3 linked regions of the Homo sapiens genome follow. The protein of the gene in region 3 purifies or fractionates together with the protein of the main gene of each other region. This does not show direct contact. Each region holds a gene or a part of one and is shown on either strand. Other genes may lie near its edges.

Region 1 (3,743 bases), on a different chromosome or scaffold from region 3:
GTTTGAAACCAGCCTGAGCAACATGGTGAAACTCCATCTCTACCAAAAATACAAAAATCAGCTAGGTGTGACGGATGCACCTATAGTCCCAGCTACTGCCGAGGCTGAGACGGGAGGATGGCTTGAGCCAGGGAGTGGAGGCTGCAGTGAGCTGAGATCATGCCACTGCACTCCAGCCTGGGACTGACAGAGACTCCATCTCAGGAAAAAAAAAAAAAAATTTAAAGTGTTTTAAAGTTGTAGGAGAAAATTTTTAGGTGCAAGATTCTTTATGTAAGACTAAGAGTCCTCTTAAAATTAGTCAAACTAATAATCTACAACAGAGCTGTTAATTTGGCAACAAATTTTTAATTTGTATCAATCTAATGTCTGTCTTTCACATACTTCCAAACATTACATAAATTATTTTACCTAGTGCATACAACTTTCAAAAACTGTATTTGGCAATTAACAGACCCCTGACAATTATTAACAGGGGTTTTACATCCCGGAGTTTGAGTGTCTGCGGGAGAACCGTCCCTGCAGGAGGCACTCCCCCTCCACCTGCGACCCGGGCTGGGAGAACGCGCGGAGGGCTCCCTTGAGCGGTCTCCGCCAGCGAGGCTTTCCTCCCGGTCGGTGTTGACAGTGTGGCATTTCTGTTATCTAATTTCTGGTTTTGACTGAAAGCGAAGTGAGTTTTCTCATCAGTGGAGTTGTAATATTTCTGCAAAAAAAAAAAAGATCACAGCCCTCCGATGAGCCGGGCACTATGCGAAGTCTCCGGCTGCCTGCGGGCCGCTGTGGACGCCCCGGCGGGGGTCAGGACCGACCCCCATCTGCGCGGCGAACGAGCCCGGACGCCCTGGCCGCGGCCGCCGGGTCCCCGCCCAGGGGCCAGGTGGCCAGGTTGCGTCGGGAGGAGGAAATGGAAGCGCTCTGAGCGACTAGCGAGCGGCAGGAGCCGCCTCCCGCGGGCTTTCCTCGCGGGCCGGGAGCGTCTGCCGCCGACCCGAGGACCGCAGGGCCCCGCTCGCCGCCCGCGCCCGTCAGAAAGCCGCGCGTCGCTCCCGTCGCTGTCGGGGTCGTCGGCTCGGGGAGTCGCCCGCCGTCCACCGGTGAACGGGAGCGCGTCCTCCCCTCCGAGGGACTAAGCGCTCGCGCCACGCATCCCGCCGCGCCGGAAGCGGGGACTACTGGCGGCCCAGCTGGGCAGGACCGCGGCCGAATGACCCGGGGCGACCCCGCAGCAAGGGCGCCTCCGGCAGGCGGCAAAGTCCCCTGAGAATCGGCGCGCTCCTCGCCGCGACGGACTCCACCCGGCCGGGGCGCTCAGCCTCCTCGCCGTGGCCCCCAGCCCGGCCGCCTCCCCTAACGGCCGCCGCAGGCTCCCCTCATGGACCGAGAGCGCGGGCTTGCAGCGCGGCAGCGTCCGTTCGGCGCGCGGCTCCGGGCAGGCCCGCCCTCCCCCGTCCCCCTGCGCCGCGAGGCCCCCCCCCCGCCCCGCCCTCCGGCGCCCGGCGCCCAATCAGAGTGCCGCGCACGTGACGAGCGATGCCTGCGATGACCTCATCCCTGGTGTGGGATGACGTCAAATTCAAGATGGATGGAATCACAGCGGCAGCGGCGGCTGCGGCGCGCGCGAGCCGAGTGTGAGCGGAAAGGGGCCCGGCGTCTGCCTCGAGACTGAAGACCGGTGAGTAACTGTCACGCCCCTAGCTCTAGGAGAACTGCGGGGCTCCTTGGGAGGCTACAGCCTCCCCGCAAAACGCGGCCTTTCCTGACGTAACTCTGAGGTGATTTCTCTCCTCTTTTTTCTCCACCAGCGGGTTGCGGGCTCCGAGCGCTTCTGCGCGTGCGCGGGACCTGGGCGCTCACCGAGCATGTCCCGGGTTCCCACGTAGCCGATTGTACCTTCACACTGCGCACGCTCCCTGCCAGCACTTGGCCTCGCCCTCGCGAATGCGCATGCTCCATTCCCTCACGGGCTTCACTCTTCACCCTGGCCGAGCTGCCCCTGGGGTAGGGGACACGCCTGGCCCAGGCGCGCGCCCCTCGCGCGGAGCGGTTGAAACGCCTCGTGGAGAAGGGCGCGTTCTCCTGTTCCGGGCAGGGGTTGGGGGCCGGCGGCCCGGGCCGCGGGGTGTGCGCGGAAGCTGGCCGGCGGCCTTGGGGACCCCGCACCTGCCGCGACCCGCCGCTCCCTTCACGGTCCGGGACCTAGCCCCGCCGCCCCGTCCTCGGCCCGGTGGCCGGAGCGTGACCGCTCGGTGCCCGCTGGACGCTCCCTCCCCGCCCCCGGCCCCTCCCGCGGACGCCTGGACCTCACAGCGCGTTTTTTTTCCTCCAGAGCCCCCGCAGACCTTGTCTGGGACTTCCCGGCGGTCCCGCAGAGCATAGCACCCTCCGCCGGCCAGGAGCCCTGCTGCTCGGCCGGCGACCGTCTCCCCGCTTGGAGGAGCCCCCTTCCCCCCGTCCGAGGTCCGCGGCTGGAGGGGCAGGGAGTCAAGACGCCACCCGTGCCGGCCTTAGAGACGCCCGCGGCAGCCCCGCCACATCTCTTCCCGGCTTTTCGGGAACACGCCCCGTAGTCCATCCTCAGCGGCTCCTGCTTTTCCATCCCAGCACACCGCTGGGGGCTCGCACTCTGCCCCCGGTTGCTATGCGGTCCCAGCCACGAGGGCTCTGCGGTTCGGGAGAATTCCGCAAGAGCGCGCGTTCGGAGGCGGGGTGTTTTTAGACAGGTGCCCCGGTGGGATTGCCTGACCGAGAGGACGGGGAAAGTTAGACTTCACACGGCCTGGGGTTTTTCCTTTCGTGCAAGCGCTCACAGCCCTGGCACCGAGCCTCCGAGGGCACGCGTGTGTTACAAAATAGTCCAGCGATTGTTCACACGATGACCCTGAGTCCTCAATTAAGCAGCTTACATTACGGTCCTCATACCTTGTTTAAGAAGACAAGAAAGTGGGTTAATCCATTTTAGAAAGATTTCTCATGGAAAATTATCTTTTAAAGCTTTCCTCGTGTACTTGGAGTAAATGATGATCTCTAAGGACTAGTAGTCATTAAGTTTAAATTTAAGCACCCCTAAATATTGATGTTAAAAAGAAAGTCAAAATTTGAAGTGCTGGTTTACTTAAAAGTAACTTTTTGTTTATTTTTCCTTTTTAACACTTTATTGAAAGTATAATGTGCTTCATTCTGTTGAAATAGAAGTTGAAGAAGATATAACCCCTGCCCTCGAGGAACTTACACTGTTGAATATTAGATGTGTACACTCTGAAGGAAAAATTGTAAATAACAAAATTGGGGTTAAGTTAAGAAGGTCTCTCGATGGAAATGAGATAATTAAAGGGACAATTTTTTCTTTTCTTTTCTTTTTTTCTTTTTTTTTTTTTTTTTTTTTTGACAGAGTTTCACTCTTGTTGCCCCAGGCTGGAGTACAATGGCGTGATCTTGGCTCACTGCAACCTCCGCCTCCCTGGTTTTGCAACCTCCGCCTCCCTGGTTCAAGCGATTCTCCTGCCTCAGCCTCCTGAGTAGCCGGGATTACAGGCTTCCGCCACATCGCCCAGCTAATTTTTTTTTTTTTTTTTTTTTTTTTTGTAGAGACGGGGTTTCATCCTGTTGACCAGGATGGCCTTGAGATCTCCTGACCTCGTGATCCACCCCACTTGGTCTCCCAAAGTGCTGGGATTACAGGCATGAGCCACTGCGCCCAGCCGAAGGGACAGTTTTAGTTGTCCGCAAAGCCAATGGAAGTA
Region 2 (3,643 bases), on a different chromosome or scaffold from region 3:
TGCAGCCTCAGGTAGGAGGTGACAGGCCCTGGGGGCCCTGGGGAGTGCCTTGTGGAAGCATAGGTGCAGGCCAGCCACTAAGGCACAACCGGCCCGCCTCGTGCGGGAACAGACCCTTCTCCATCTGGACCCAGGCCTGGGCTGGGTGGCGGGAGAATGGTTCTTTTGCTGAATCTATGAAATGGAAACTGGCAAAACTGCCAAATGAGGGCGAGTCAGAGGCCAGCGAGATGTGTCCGGATGGGGTGAGGAAGAGCCTCCTGGAACGGCAAAGGGGAGATGCTCTAAGGTGAAGGATGAGAAAGCAGAGCCCAGGGAGTGCAGAGGGCAGGGGAGACCGGAACAAAAGCGGGAACAGCCATGGCGATGGGGGGATGGGTACAGGATCTTTGTAGCCAAAATCATCAGGAATTTTCCATGTCGTCTCCAGGGACTAGCCCTGCCCCCAGCCTCACCCCTGCAGGCCCAGCCGCTCCCGCAGCTTCAGCCAAGCCGCTGCCTCCCGGCCCCTCCCTCTCCTGCCCGGACCCTGTCCCCTCCCAGGCCGGCCACGTTCCTGCTTCCCCAGACCCCCGGCACCACCCTGGAGCCCGGAGTGCCCGGTACCCACCTGAGGGCAGGTCGAGCTCCACGCCGACCCACGTGCCCTCTTGGAAGTCGGCAGGCCCCACGTATCTCACCACGCCCGTTTTGTGGGCGCCCACGGTGACGAACTCGCCCTCTCGGAGCCACTCCGGGACCTCGTCAGCTTCCTCGGAATCAGAGGCCAGGGCCTGTCCCCCGGCGCCCGGGGCCGGCGCATTCCCCTCGGCCCCCGGGGAGCAGCCGGGGTCCCCAGCCAGCATGCGCGAGAAGGAGCGCAACTCCGAGGCCCGCACCCTCCGGACGCGGAACGGGGAGCCGGGCGCCGGGGCCTCGAGGTCGGGGCGCTCCCGACCGGGGCTCACGAGCTGCTGGGGGCCAGGGGGCTCCTCGGCGGGGACGGCCGTGGGCGGTGGGGGGTGGCTGATGGGCGCCTCGGGCTCGGCCTCAGGGGCGGTGGGCATGGACCCCGGCGGGGCCGCAGCGTCCAGGCCGGGGCCCAGGGCGTCCGACAGGGTCGCGGTGGAGACGCTGTGGGAGAAGTACCCGCTAGAGGCTTCACTCAGGGGGCTGGGGGGCCCGTCCTGTGCCTCCGGAGCCGGGGTGACCGCTGTGACAGCTATGACAGGCGGTGGGGAAGGCACTTTGGCAGGTTTGTCGCAGATCTTCAAGGCCGGGGCCCCCATCGTCTGCACCAGCACGTCAGGGCCCATCTCCGGCTGAGCCTGCAGCAGGACGGGGAAGCAGGGGCTGAGAACAGAAAACTTTCCAACACGAACCAAGCAGGCAGCTTTGACTTGGAAAAGAGCATGAGGCCAGGGGCAGTGGCTCAGCCTGTAACCCCAGTGCTTATGGAGGGCAAGACGGAAGATCGCTTGAGCCCAGGAGTTCAAGAACAGCCTGGGCAACATAGTGAGACCCCGTTTCGACAAAATAAATAAATAAAGAACATGGCTGGGACCCGGCCAGGCCCTGGTTCCCACACTGGTTCTGCCACTTAGGGCTGCATGGCCCTGGCTTCCAAAGTGATAAAGGTTGAGGGGCCGACAGTGCACCCCGCAGGCCCTGTGCTGTGTGCCCAGGCTCAAGAGCACTGACCATGGCCACAGCCCCTGCCCCATCTACTTTTTACCTTTCATACAAAATAGAATCCAGGGCCTGCCATGCAGGGCCAGCACGCTACAAAGACCAAGGCCCCTCGCCACAGAGGGCAGCACACAGTAGGTGCACGCTAAAACCCTGCTAGGGCTAGTTAGCTTTCCTCCCATGGAGACAAAGCCCCTGCCCACCCCCAACCTCACGAAGAGACTGAGTCACTAAAGAGACCAGAAGAGCACTTTTTTGTCCGGCAAAACCTAAACAATGATCTCATCGGAGGACCGGAACACACTCAGCACAGCCTGGCCAGCTCAGGCACCAACAAGGAGCCACGGGCCTGCAGCCTGGCTGGGCATCCCGAGCAAGGCAGCAGGGGGACGAGGAGGGGTACGAGGAGGGGTATGAGGAGGGGGACGAGGAGGGGGACGAGGAGGGGGACGAGGAGGGGGACGAGGAGGGGGACGAGGAGGGGGATGAGGAGGGGACAAAGGCTCCCTGTGGGCCGTGGCCCTTTCTCTCCAAGGCTGCTGCTCTGGCTGCTATGGAAAGCAGGTGCCATGTCAGGGGCTGGGGGGGCCTCGGACCCTGGAGAGAGGCCAGGAAGCAGCCCCCAGGGAGAAGCCACCAAGTGAGGCCAGCAGCTCTCCTCATGTCGGTCACTCTGTCTGAGTCACCCAGGCAGAGGACACACACACACTCAAAGCCCACATCTCATGGGGGAGAGCAGCCACCGCTTGCCCAAATCCTATTGTTTCTGGGGCATTCTTTCATCTATAACTGAAGCCATGTGAAGAGGCTGCCAGATCATCTTTCTATTCCTATTCACAGTGACCGAAGAAAAGGAGAAGGCAGGAACAGGGAATGAGATTGGTGGGGTGGAGAGCACTGCTATCCAGAAGAAATATGTTTTCCGATATTTATGGAAAAATTATTTATATTACAGGAATGGTCATTTTCCATTTGAAATACGGGATTTATTTGAATGGGGAAGCGGCTGAGATCTATACGTCTCTTACAGTTACTTGGCTTACCTCAGCAGCTTGATAAATCATGCGTTTTCCCAGGAACTGTCCTTTATATTCCCGTTTCCAGGGGCCCTCTTTTCCCCACCAACCACACTTTCAGGGTAGGAAATTAATGGCACCTCTTGAGATTAACAGCCCATTTTTGTGGTGAATCTCTAGGCTGCAAAATTTACTCAATCCAATAGATCAATAACTGTCACCAGCATAAATACTCTAAAAGATTAGGCAATCCTTCAATCATTCTTCCTTTGCACATTGTCCATGTTTTATTTATTCTCTTCTATTTTAGTTTTAATATCACTGACCCAACAGGGGAGAATACGCAAAACTATGAGAGCCGGGAATCTGAACGGTAACCAGGGTCCTGAAATGGCTTCTGTTCCCCGCCCCCACCCCGGGTAAGGCCAGCCACTGTCACTTCCCCAGGCCAGGCTCTCCCAGGATGAGGCCAGCTGCATGCCTCAGATTTGCAAGTATCATCATCCCATTGGCTTCCATGTAAGACACTGGCTTGGGCTGGGCTGGAAGGATCATGGCATTATTCTACAGCAGGCCTCCAGAGGGGAAAGCCCTCATCCAAGGCTGCACTAAGTGAAAAGGCAGGCACTGGGGGCAGAGCTGCAGAGTCAACAAAGCAGGGAGCAGGATGGTGGAAAGCACAGACTGGCACTCCAGGCCCCATCCCCACTTGACTGGAGTTGATTTGTGAGTTGAAACCCAGATGCCATCTATGGATTATACCCTTGCCACTGAAGAAGACATTTCTGGAGACTTCTGCAAAAGCCCAAGCTTGGAAAACCACCATGATGAGCTACAGAAGCTGCTGCCTTCACTGGCAAGGGGCTTGCTCTGACCATCCTGCTGACCAGGGACACTCAAACCTGCCTCAGAGAAGAGACCGGCACCATTCCCAGGGGAGGGGGCACCCCGATCCCGGC
Region 3 (3,743 bases):
CAGGAGAATCGCTTGAACCTGGGTGGCAGAGATTGCAGTGAGCTGAGATCATGCCACTGCACTCCAGCCTGGGTGACAGAGCGAGACTTCGTCTAAAAAATAAATAAATAAATAAATAAATAAATAAATAGATAAATAAATAAACCAGGATAAATAAGTAAAATATCTAGGGTACGAAATAATGCCATGTGCTATGACAAGAAATAAGCCGGGGAAAGGGACTCAGAAGTGTCCCTTTGAGTTTGGGGAGGGAAGTGCAATTTTAGAAAATATGGCTGGGGAGGGCTTCACTGAGACTGTAACATTTGAGTTGTGCCCTGAACTAAGTGGGGGAGTGGACCTAGCAGATATCCAGAAGGAAGAGCATTCCGGGCATCTGGAATCTGGAATGGGAAGCAGAAAGGCTCTGAGGCCAGAATGTGACTGGCGCCTGCTTTCAGGAGGCCAGTGTGGCTGGAGTCCTATAAGTAGAGGAGAAGGGTCAGCTCAGTGGTTCATGCCTGTAATCCCAGCACTTTAGGAGGCTGAGGCGGGAGGATTATTTGAGCCTGGGAGCTGGAGACTAGACTGGGCAACACAGTGAGACCCCATCCCTACAAAAAATAAAAAAATCAGCAGGGCATGGTGATGCGTTCCTGTAGTCCCAGCCGTTCAGGAAGATAAGGCGAGAGGATCCCTTGAGCCCAGGAGCTGGAAACTGCAGTGAGCTATGATTGCGCCACTGCACTCCAGCCTGGGTGACAGAGCAAGCAAGAACCTGTCTTAAAAAAAAAAGGCCAGGCGCAGTGGCTCACACCTGTAATCCCAGCACTTTGGGAGGCCGAGGCGGGAGGATCACGAGGTCAGGAGATCGAGACCATCCTGGCGAACACGGTGAAACCCCGTCTCTACTAAAAATACAAAAAAATTAGCCGGGCGTGGTGGCGGGCGCCTGTAGTCCCAGCCACTCAGGAGGAGAATGGCATGAACCCGGGAGGCGGAGCTTGCAGTGAGCCGAGATCGGGCTACTGCACTCCAGCCTGGGCGACAGAACGAGACTCCGTCTCAAAAAAAAAAAAAAAAAAAAAATAGGGGGTAAGATGTTGTGAGAGTTGGAGAGGCAGAGGCAGAGGCAGGACAAGTCACGCAGGGTCTTGTAGGACCCTGTAAAGATTTTATTATGAATTTTACAAGAAGGAAGGTGTGAGAGCAGGGTTTTTGCTGCGATGAGGATGGAAGGGAGGGAGGCAACCCGCCCCTTCCGGGCTGGATGAGAAATGGGAAAGGACTTTGAGAGCCCCTCCACTCTCTCTTTTTTTTTTTTTTTTGGCCTTCCTTCCCTAGGAGACGCCAGTCCCAGCGCTCCGGAGGTGGTGGGCGCGCGGGCAGCGGTGCCGCGGTCCTTCTCAGCGCCCTACCCGACGGCAGGGGGGTCCGCCGGCCCGGAGGCCTGCTCCTCGGCGGAGCGGCGGGCCCGCGCCGGGCCCTTTCTGACGCCCAGCCCCCTGCACGCCGTGGCGATGCGCAGCCCGCGGCCCTGCGGCCGCCCTCCCACCGACTCGCCCGACGCGGGGGGCGCAGGGCGGCCCCTGGACGGCTACATCTCGGCGCTCCTGCGCAGGCGCCGCCGCCGGGGGGCGGGCCAGCCCCGGACCAGTCCCGGGGGCGCGGACGGCGGCCCGCGGCGCCAGAACAGCGTGCGCCAGCGGCCGCCCGACGCGTCTCCGTCCCCCGGCAGCGCGCGACCCGCGCGGGAGCCCTCGTTGGAGCGCGTCGGGGGCCACCCCACCAGCCCTGCCGCCTTGAGCCGCGCCTGGGCGTCGTCGTGGGAGTCGGAGGCGGCACCCGAGCCCGCTGCGCCGCCCGCCGCCCCCTCACCCCCCGACAGCCCGGCTGAGGGCCGCTTGGTGAAGGCGCAGTACATCCCGGGCGCGCAGGCGGCCACCCGAGGCCTCCCTGGCCGCGCCGCCCGCCGCAAACCGCCGCCACTGACCCGCGGCCGCAGCGTGGAGCAGTCACCACCCCGGGAGCGTCCCCGGGCCGCCGGCCGCCGTGGACGCATGGCCGAGGCTTCGGGCCGCCGCGGCTCGCCCAGGGCCCGCAAGGCCTCGCGCTCCCAGTCTGAGACCAGCCTGCTGGGCCGCGCCTCCGCGGTCCCTTCGGGGCCCCCTAAGTACCCCACGGCGGAGCGGGAAGAGCCTCGGCCTCCACGGCCACGCCGCGGCCCAGCGCCCACGCTGGCGGCCCAGGCCGCAGGGTCCTGCCGTCGCTGGCGCTCCACTGCGGAGATCGACGCTGCCGATGGGCGCCGCGTGCGGCCCCGAGCCCCTGCGGCGCGTGTTCCCGGCCCCGGCCCGTCCCCGTCAGCTCCCCAGCGTCGTCTGCTTTACGGCTGCGCGGGCAGCGACTCCGAGTGCTCGGCTGGGCGCCTGGGGCCCCTGGGACGCCGGGGGCCTGCGGGAGGCGTCGGCGGGGGTTACGGGGAGAGCGAATCGAGCGCCAGCGAGGGAGAATCGCCTGCCTTCAGCTCTGCCTCCAGCGACTCAGACGGCAGCGGTGGCCTCGTGTGGCCGCAGCAGCTGGTGGCGGCCACCGCGGCCTCTGGGGGTGGAGCAGGTGCAGGGGCGCCCGCAGGCCCCGCCAAAGTCTTCGTGAAAATCAAAGCTTCCCACGCGCTCAAGAAAAAGATACTGCGTTTCCGTTCGGGTTCTCTCAAGGTCATGACTACAGTGTGAGTTTGGGGATTTGCTTGGGCTCCCCCTTCATGGCCTCTGCACCTCCACACTCCCAACCACTGACCCTTCCACATCTACCTTCCAAAGACCATCGTTTTCTCTGCTTCCAAAGACCCCCCTCACTCTCCCCACTCCTAACAGTCTTGGTTGAAAAGGCTCCCCCACCACCACCGAGAGGAATGGGGAGGAGCCCTGTTTGACCCAGTTCAGCTTCTAGCTTGGAAGCCCTTGGGCAAGACAGTTCCCCTTCTCTGGGCGTCACTTTCCTCATCTGTACAGTAAGTGTCCATGTATGCAAAAGGGGTAATTCGGTTTGAATTTCCCCGTTTTAGTTTAGAAGCCTAGTCTGTTTGTTCCCCTCCACCGCTCTCCCTCTCATTCCTGATGAGCCCTCTCATTCCTCCTTTCCTTGCCCAGCTATGGCCCCCTCTCATTCACAAAGTGCCCCCTCCATGTCCCTGGACCCTTAAGATATCCCCTTGGCACCCTGGTCAGAGACTCTGTGTCTGACTCAGGTGGTCCCTGCAGAGTGCCCTGGGAAGGGAAGGAGCACTGATTTGGGGGTTTTGAGGGTCAAGTAGGGGTTGGTAACACCTGGAAAGAAGGACTCTTTCACTTCGATCCCTGGACAATTATGGAGGATTCGGAGGTAGAAGAGGGGAAGGAAGATGGTTTCTATCTCATGACCCCCACTCCCTGTGAGAGGGAATGGGGGAAGCCTGATGACCCTCAGCTGTTCCAATCTAGTATTTTTTTTCTTTTTTAAAATTACTGTATTTATTATGACGATGGTGACTCCCCAGTGCAAAGGGGGGCCAGATTCTGTGTGTTTCTCTAACCTCTTTGTAAATAAATGCACAGTGTAACATATGTGGTGGACTCTCACTGAATGATTAAATGGGAGAAATGCTCTTTTTCCTTTGGACTAACATTTATTGAGCAACTTCTGTTTGCTGTGGATATGGCAGTTTCCAGGGAGGTCCCAGGGTGAATCTCAACATCATCTTCCTACCATTGGCTATTTTACAT

The links.
Region 1: the proteins of DACT3 (region 3) and ZBTB21 purify together in Homo sapiens (affinity purification with mass spectrometry, with the first as the bait; one large-scale study listed by BioGRID). This does not show direct contact.
Region 2: the proteins of DACT3 (region 3) and KIF13B purify together in Homo sapiens (affinity purification with mass spectrometry, with the first as the bait; one large-scale study listed by BioGRID). This does not show direct contact.

Annotation. Positions count from the first base shown.
Region 1 is NC_000021.9:42,008,184-42,011,926, reverse strand, and holds the start of ZBTB21 (zinc finger and BTB domain-containing protein 21), read left to right. Parts: upstream 1-1,566; 5' UTR 1,567-1,675; intron 1,676-2,329; exon of another isoform or gene 2,330-3,743. UniProt on the Homo sapiens protein: Acts as a transcription repressor.
Region 2 is NC_000008.11:29,071,010-29,074,652, forward strand, and holds part of KIF13B (kinesin-like protein KIF13B), read right to left. Parts: intron 1,308-3,643; coding exon 611-1,307; intron 1-610. UniProt on the Homo sapiens protein: Involved in reorganization of the cortical cytoskeleton. Regulates axon formation by promoting the formation of extra axons. May be functionally important for the intracellular trafficking of MAGUKs and associated protein complexes.
Region 3 is NC_000019.10:46,647,453-46,651,195, reverse strand, and holds the end of DACT3 (dapper homolog 3), read left to right. Parts: intron 1-1,323; coding exon 1,324-2,714; 3' UTR 2,715-3,645; downstream 3,646-3,743. UniProt on the Homo sapiens protein: May be involved in regulation of intracellular signaling pathways during development. Specifically thought to play a role in canonical and/or non-canonical Wnt signaling pathways through interaction with DSH (Dishevelled) family proteins.